Homo sapiens: one gene and its partner. The protein of the gene in region 2 purifies or fractionates together with the protein of the main gene of each other region. This does not show direct contact. Each region holds a gene or a part of one and is shown on either strand. Other genes may lie near its edges.

The links.
Region 1: the proteins of ZBTB6 (region 2) and SAR1B purify together in Homo sapiens (affinity purification with mass spectrometry, with the first as the bait; one large-scale study listed by BioGRID). This does not show direct contact.

The regions. Positions count from the first base shown.
Region 1 is NC_000005.10:134,605,223-134,609,039, reverse strand, and holds part of SAR1B (small COPII coat GTPase SAR1B), read left to right. Parts: intron 1-536; coding exon 537-668; intron 669-1,973; coding exon 1,974-2,090; 3' UTR 2,091-3,817. UniProt on the Homo sapiens protein: Small GTPase that cycles between an active GTP-bound and an inactive GDP-bound state and mainly functions in vesicle-mediated endoplasmic reticulum (ER) to Golgi transport.
Region 2 is NC_000009.12:122,910,442-122,914,819, reverse strand, and holds the start of ZBTB6 (zinc finger and BTB domain-containing protein 6), read left to right. Parts: upstream 1-1,496; 5' UTR 1,497-1,569; intron 1,570-2,738; 5' UTR 2,739-2,747; coding exon 2,748-4,022; 3' UTR 4,023-4,378. UniProt on the Homo sapiens protein: May be involved in transcriptional regulation.

The DNA of each region.
Region 1 (3,817 bases), on a different chromosome or scaffold from region 2:
TTGATCATACCATGGCTCTGCCCAGAGCAGGCAAACAAATACTTGTACGTGTGGAAAAGTCCAGGTAGGTTCTATGGTTACAAAACAAGGACAGAGAATGCCTGAGTTCCTACTTTGTTCCAGAGACTGTGCGTATTACTTGATTTAATTCTCAATTTCATAGGGTGGATGCTACTGTTCCTAATTCTCTCTAGAGCTTCAGTCAGGCTAACTTGCCCAAAGTCACATCTCAAAAGCAGTAGAGCCAGAAGTGAAACCACATCTGTTCACTTCTAAGGTGCTGGCTCTATACGTTCTATGTCACTCCTTTAAAGGATGAGCAGAGTAAACATTTACAGGAAGAGCCTTAGGAAGACAGAAGAATTTAGCTTATGGTTTCATTGAGGTCACTTTAAAATGTGGGGAAAGTTTGACAAAGAACGTTGGTATGACATGATATGGTAGAAAATGAGTCCTTTATTGTTTTATCATATCAAAATAAGCTCTTTGGATGGTTTCATATCAACTCTTGTTTTGTATTGTTTTGTTTTTTTCAGTCACTAATGACAGATGAAACCATTGCTAATGTGCCTATACTGATTCTTGGGAATAAGATCGACAGACCTGAAGCCATCAGTGAAGAGAGGTTGCGAGAGATGTTTGGTTTATATGGTCAGACAACAGGAAAGGTAAAAAAAAAAAAAAAATTATGATGGGTGTGTTTAATTCTACAGTACAAATGTCTTCTTAAATTACTATTGTCCAACTATACAAGCCCATTATCATTTTCTTAAAGAAAACTGTCATTTATACCTGTGGGTCTTTTTAATGTCCTCATTTCTTTCTACCATGGAATGAAACATTTTCTTGGTGACAACAAAAATGTCAAGGATGAGTTATGCCTAAGGCTTGTGCTTATAGGAAACTAAATTAAAGCTTTCAAAGTTATTTATCATACATTTTCAGAATTAGCCACCAAACGATATATTTGAGTGTTTAAGTATACCAGTAGTGTGTTTAGGCCCTGAGTTTACCAGAGATAAATAAGACATAAACTTGGAATATTTTACGGTTTTCTGAACATATACTTTATAATAAGCTTTAAGACGGATTGTTTTGGTATTCACTTTTCCTAGGATTTATTTTGGGGGAAACATCAGCATTGAAAAAATCCAGATAAACAGTGGAAGAACCCCAGAGATTTACAAAATTTTTTTAGTTTACATATACTATTTCAGGGTGGAGAAATACTGCAGCATATAGCAGGAGGCTCTTTTTTTTTTTTTTTGAGATGGAGTTTTGCTCTTGTTGCCCAGGCTGGAGTACAATGGTGCAATCTCGGCTCATTGCAACCTCTGCCTCCCAGGTTCAAGCGATTCTCCTGCCTCAGCCTCCCTGGTAGCTGGGATTACAGGCGTGTGCCAGCACGCCCAGCTAATTTTGTATTTTTGGTAGAGACGGGGTTTCTCCATGTTGGTCAGTCTGGTCTCGAACTCCTGACCTCAGGTGATCCGCCCGCCTTGGCCTCCCAGAGTGCTGAGATTACAGGCATGAGCCACCACGCCCGGTCCGCAGGAGGCTCTTAAGTCAGACAAAGTAGACTTTGGTCTGTTTTCTGTCTTCTTTTTTATAAATTAGCTTGATATTAATTTTAGGAAATGCTTTGTTTGGTCATAAACCTTCTCAGGGAATGTTTGTCTTTAATATTAGTGAAGCCAGTTTGGATTTTTTTCTAAGTCAGATTATTTTTATTCTTGGGTATCTTGCAAGCTAACCTCTTTCCCACTGAGTGGCCATCCTGCCCTAAGGTAGAGTGAGAGAAGGAGGCTTCTTGTGTGTTCATGGGGCTTGGATGCCAAGCAGCCACGACTTTATCACAGTCATGGATTTATCACAGCCATTCTTTGTTCTAAAATAGAACCTATAATTCTGCTGGGATGTGGGGCTTTATTAATTTTATAAAATTCCAACGAAATGTCTCTCTTCTATTCTAGGGGAGTATATCTCTGAAAGAACTGAATGCCCGACCCTTAGAAGTTTTCATGTGTAGTGTGCTCAAAAGACAAGGTTACGGAGAAGGCTTCCGCTGGATGGCACAGTACATTGATTAACACAAACTCACATTGGTTCCAGGTCTCAACGTTCAGGCTTACTCAGAGATTTGATTGCTCAACATGCATAACTTGAATTCAATAGACTTTTGCTGGTTATAAAACAGATGTTTTTTAGATTATTAATATTAAATCAACTTAATTTGAATGAGAATTGAAAACTGATTCAAGTAAGTTTGAGTATCACAATGTTAGCTTTCTAATTCCATAAAAGTACTTGGTTTTTACAGTTTATAATCTGACATCACCCCAGCGCCATTTGTAAAGAGCAACTTTCCAGCAGTACATTTGAAGCACTTTTTAACAACATGAAACTATAAACCATATTTAAAAGCTCATCATGTTAAATTTTTTATGTACTTTTCTGGAACTAGTTTTTAAATTTTAGATTATATGTCCACCTATCTTAAGTGTACAGTTAATAATTAGCTTATTCAATGATTGCATGATGCCTTACAGTTTTCAATAACTTTTTTTCTTATGCAAACGTCATGCAATAAAACAAACTCTAATGTTTGGCATCCTTGTTGGGCAAATGTTTCATTTAAATGTGTCTTATCTAGCTAGTATACTCTGAAAATTTGAGTATTTAATATTAGGCATATGAAGTGGTTGTTGGGAAAGGAGATTCCTTCAGAATATTTAGAATAGCGTTTAAGGCTCTCAAGGCTTAGGTATTTACCATGAGATGGTTGTGGTCAGTTGCACCTGATACCATGTATCCCTGAATCATGTGTATTTTTATTAGTAATGCAGCCACTACCATTGCTGATGGGGTCTGTGTCCTAGTCCCTGTGGGATTGGCCTTCTGAAGAAAAGCACATTTATGGTACACAAGGTTGATTCTCAGTTTGGTAGGCTCTATAGTTCCATCCCAGCTGTCTAATTCTGAAGTGCTCCAGTCTTATTGGTGCCCAATGGGGTAATCTGTGCCTCTTCCCCAAAAGCAATGACAGGCACCAGTGTCTCCACATTTAGATATATTCCCAGTCTCTGTACATTTAACAGTACTCTCTGGGGCAAGCAATAAGTAGGACCTTGTGTGCAGTTTCATTGTAGAGACATGTATATCTGAGGAATAAAACAGCTTGTTCTGTGTCAGTCTGAGATATGTGGAGATTTTGTTCCTATCCTATAGCTCTTTTGTATTCTTTGGCATATTTTATATCCTGGTAGAAGAAAACAAGTGCTTGTTTCCAATTTTCTTTTTTCTTATTTGCTCTCAGGTAGTTCTTACTCCATACAACAAAGACTTTTTGTTTGTTGGGCTTTTTTTTTTTTTTTTTTTTTGCTCTGTTTCATTTTGTTTTAGAGACGGGGTTTCACCATGTTGTCCAGGCTGGTCTCAAACTCCTGACCTCAAGTGATCTGCCCGCCTTGGCCTCCCAAAGTTCTGGGATTATAGGCGTGAGCTACCATGCCTGACCTGACTTTTGTTTTTAGATATTATGCTTGCCATGTGATAGGGCCTGCAAGCCTCATTGCTAGGCTTACTAAGAAAATTTTAGTTTTTCAAAAGCATTATAATTTCCTAAGAAACTGAATTCTTTTTTTATATGTTTGAGATTCCCATCATTAGTAATATAAGATGAAAGGTAAGTGCCAAAAATGTATTTTTAAAGACCCTCAAGTTTAAGATTTATCCTGATTATAAGCCAAGTTTTATAGTATATTTAACCAATTCCATCAAGAATAATTTTAATATCAAAAATTAGTGTTTTCTGTAG
Region 2 (4,378 bases):
GCTGAGGCAGGAGAATTGCTTGAACCTGCTAGGCGGAGGTTGCGGTAGGCCGAGATCGTGCCACTGCACTCCAGCCTGGACCACAGAGTGAGACTCTGTCTCAAAAAAAAAAGAAAAAGAATTTCTTCAGTCATATCTTCATTCAGCACAAATACTTGATGCCTACCAAGTGCTAGACTTCGAGAATACAAAGATCAGTAAGCCACTGTCCTAAATAACTCTGCCTAGATGAGGCACAAATTAATACAGGCGTGTTAAGTGCAATAATGAAGGCAGGAAAAGGGATTACAGGTTTCAAACTGGGAACCAATTATCTTAGGGCAGTTCAGGATGGCTTCAGGATGATGAGATTTATAAACGGGTTCTTTAAAGATACGTTGGGGAAGGCCGGGCTCGGTGGCTCACGCCTGTAATCCCAGCACTTTGGGAGGCCAAGGCGGGCGGATCACGAGGTCAGGAGATCGAGACCATCCTGGCTAACACGGTGAAACCCCGTCTCTACTAAAAATACAAAAAAAAAAAAATTAGCCAGGCGAAGTGGCGGGCACCTGAAGTCCCAGCTTACTCGGGAGGCTGAGGCAGGAGAATGGCGTGAACCCAGGAGGCGGAGCTTGCAGTGAGCCGAGATCCTGCCGCTGCACTCCAGCCTGGGCGACAGAGAGAGACTCCGTCTCAAAAAAAAAAAAAAAAAGCCTGGGGAAAAGGCTAGGGCACGTCAGAGGAAACAGCTGGGCCAAAAGTTTTGGGATGGAGGAACGCATTTAAGTGTGAAGCTAGATCCAGAGGTTGGGGCCATCTCCTGATGGGGCATTATCTAGGCAATCTCGAATACGGATCTTTATGATAGTTTCTGCTCTGCCACCTTTCAAGTTGTAGGTGGCCCCAATAAGGAGAGGAATCGTCCCAGAATAATCCATAAAAGGTCTGGTTACTCTGACAGACGTGCCGTAACCGAACCTCAAACCCCGTCTCCAATTCGGATGTTCAGGAGGACTCACAAAAGGAAATGGCTCGGCTGGGCGCGGTGGCTCAACCCGGTAATCCCAGCATTTAGGGAGGCCGAGGCGGGCGGATCTCCTGAGGTCAGGAGTTCGATACCAGCCTAGCCAACATGGTGAAACCCCGTCTCTACTAAAAATACAAAAATGAGCCGGGCGTGGTGGCGGGCGCCTGTAATCTCAGCTACTTGGGAGGCTGCGGAGCGAGAGTCGCTTGAACCCGGGAGGCGAAGGTTGCAGTGAGCCGAAATCGCGCCATTGCACTCCAGCCTGGGCAACAAGAGCGAAACTCCGTCTTAAAAAAAAAAAGGGATGGTGGGGGAAAACGGCTCGAGTGCCGAAACTGGGACAAGAGAGATGGGGCTTGCCGGCATTCAGGAGCCTTTCTGTCATTCCAAGAGGGGGGAAGTGAGGAAGGAAGACCGTCTCAGAATGTCCTTCCGGGGCGCCTAGAGGGCCCCAGTAAAGAATAAAGCTGGTTGGCACCGGATGTGTTTTCTTCCAGGCTAAGTCCATCTTCCGGCTTGGGCAGACGCTGCCGCGGAATCCTTGACTCTAGTTTTCTGAGTCGGTGAGTGAGTGCAAAGTAGATTCCTCAGGTGGAGGGTGCCTGAGGAAGAGGAGGAGGAGGAGGAGGACAGCTGGGCTCGGCCCCGGAGTGGCTAATCTTGTGCTGCAACCACTGGGCCGACAGGGCCTTGGCCCTTCGCAGGGTTGCCTCCAGAATACCTGTGTGCTGAACCTGGCATCCGGTTTCAGTTCAGCAGATGTTCCCTGAGCTCCTCCTGCTCTGTGTGGGCCCCTGAGCTCGGTGCAGGAACACAGATGCATCAGGCACCATCTCGCGGTGCTCAGAGAGCAGCTGACTCTCTCTGGTTGAAACGGGAGGTGGAGTCATATTAGTTTTACTTGATTTGGGCTTAAAGGAGCCTAATCACTAGCTGAAAAAAGGAACTGGAAACGCGAATGTAAGAAATGTGTATTCGTGTCTTTTTGTCTGGGTAATGATGGAAAAATTTAGTATTGAACGAGGTTCGAGTATGAAAAAGAGAATAGAAGGTGATAAAGCCATAAAGATGGGTTAGAGCCAAATCGTGATGGGTCTCGTATTCTTTCCTAAGAAATCTGGACTGTCCCGGAGGTAGAGAAGAACGATAGAAGATTTAAAGCAGAAAAGGGAAATTAAAAATAAAATAAAATAAGGGTTGTTAATCCTGGTGGCACTCAGGCGGGTAATCTGGCATACAGAAGAGTGTGGTATAAAGAAGACCTGTTGGAAGACATTGCAGTTGTCCAGGTGAACCGGAAGGAGGACCTGTTGTAGTGGTGGGGAGTAGGAAGTTTGGAGATTACGTTAAAGTTGCTAATTGGATATATTATGTTAAATCAACTTTTTGGTGGTCACAGTGCTTATATTGGATATTCAAAATTGATAGATTGTTCTTGACCACAAGGCACACAACATTTAGCAAAAGAAACAAGCTAGAAACTGTTCACTACAATTCATTGTAATGAATGTTGTAACAAAGTTATGAAAAATGTGCTATGAGATCATAGAGAAGTGCATTATAAAGTTCTCGTTTTGAGATGGTGGCATAAAGGTTCATAACACCTACATTAGACTTTGAGTCTTCTTCTTCCTAATTCAGGTTTGGGGTTTTTCGTTTGTTTTCACCATTACAGCATGGGAAAGCATTCCCTATCCTTATTACATCAATGTTTGTGTTTTATTTTGCTTAGATTGTGATCATGGCTGCTGAGTCTGATGTTCTGCATTTCCAGTTTGAACAGCAAGGAGATGTGGTCTTGCAGAAAATGAATCTTTTGAGACAGCAGAATTTATTTTGTGATGTATCAATTTACATTAATGACACTGAGTTCCAGGGGCACAAGGTGATTTTGGCTGCTTGCTCCACTTTTATGAGAGATCAGTTTTTACTCACACAGTCAAAACATGTCAGAATCACCATCTTACAGAGTGCAGAAGTTGGCAGAAAATTGTTACTGTCTTGCTATACTGGAGCACTTGAAGTTAAAAGGAAAGAGCTTTTGAAATACTTGACTGCTGCCAGTTACCTTCAGATGGTTCACATTGTGGAAAAGTGCACAGAAGCTTTGTCAAAGTATCTGGAAATTGATCTTTCTATGAAAAACAACAACCAACACACTGACCTGTGTCAGTCTTCTGATCCTGATGTTAAGAATGAAGATGAAAATTCTGATAAAGACTGTGAGATAATTGAAATTTCAGAAGATAGTCCTGTAAACATAGATTTCCATGTTAAAGAAGAGGAAAGCAATGCTTTGCAGTCTACAGTAGAGAGTCTGACATCAGAGAGAAAGGAAATGAAGTCACCAGAGCTGTCTACAGTAGACATAGGTTTTAAAGACAATGAAATTTGTATCCTTCATGTAGAATCCATCAGTACAGCTGGTGTCGAAAATGGGCAGTTTTCACAGCCTTGTACCTCTTCAAAAGCAAGCATGTATTTCTCTGAAACACAGCATTCATTGATCAATTCTACAGTTGAGAGCAGAGTGGCTGAAGTTCCTGGGAATCAAGATCAGGGCTTATTTTGTGAGAATACTGAAGGAAGTTATGGTACAGTGAGTGAGATTCAGAATCTGGAGGAAGGTTATTCACTGAGGCACCAGTGCCCCAGGTGTCCTCGAGGCTTTCTTCATGTTGAAAACTATCTGCGCCACCTTAAAATGCATAAACTATTCTTATGCTTACAGTGCGGAAAAACATTTACACAGAAGAAAAATCTCAACCGACACATCCGAGGACACATGGGCATACGGCCCTTTCAGTGTACTGTGTGCTTGAAGACATTTACTGCCAAAAGCACACTTCAGGACCACTTGAACATACACAGTGGGGATCGGCCATACAAATGCCACTGTTGTGATATGGATTTCAAGCACAAGTCTGCTCTCAAAAAGCACTTAACCTCTGTCCATGGCAGAAGCAGTGGTGAAAAACTATCTAGGCCTGATCTCAAAAGGCAAAGTCTACTATAATTATAATCACAGACTTGTTATATAAAGTTTGTATTATTCTATTACGCAAGTCTTTCTGTAGAGATGCAGCATTTGTAATATTTCATCCCCCCAATCTTTGTTTCTTATATTTTGTCGGCTTACACATAATCATTCTTTCTGAACTTCTAACAGTTCCAAAGTTATGGGAGGCACAGTAAAGCTGATGGGATTCTGTCTCATCTCATACCTTACATATAAGTCTCAGTAGTATCCCTAGAGAAATAGTGTTCCTCTCTTATATATTCTTGATTCTAGTGACAAAGGATCCAGCAGTATTTGCAGATTCCGATTTGGAGTCTCTAGGTAATTGATTTAAGTATAAAATCCAATCATAT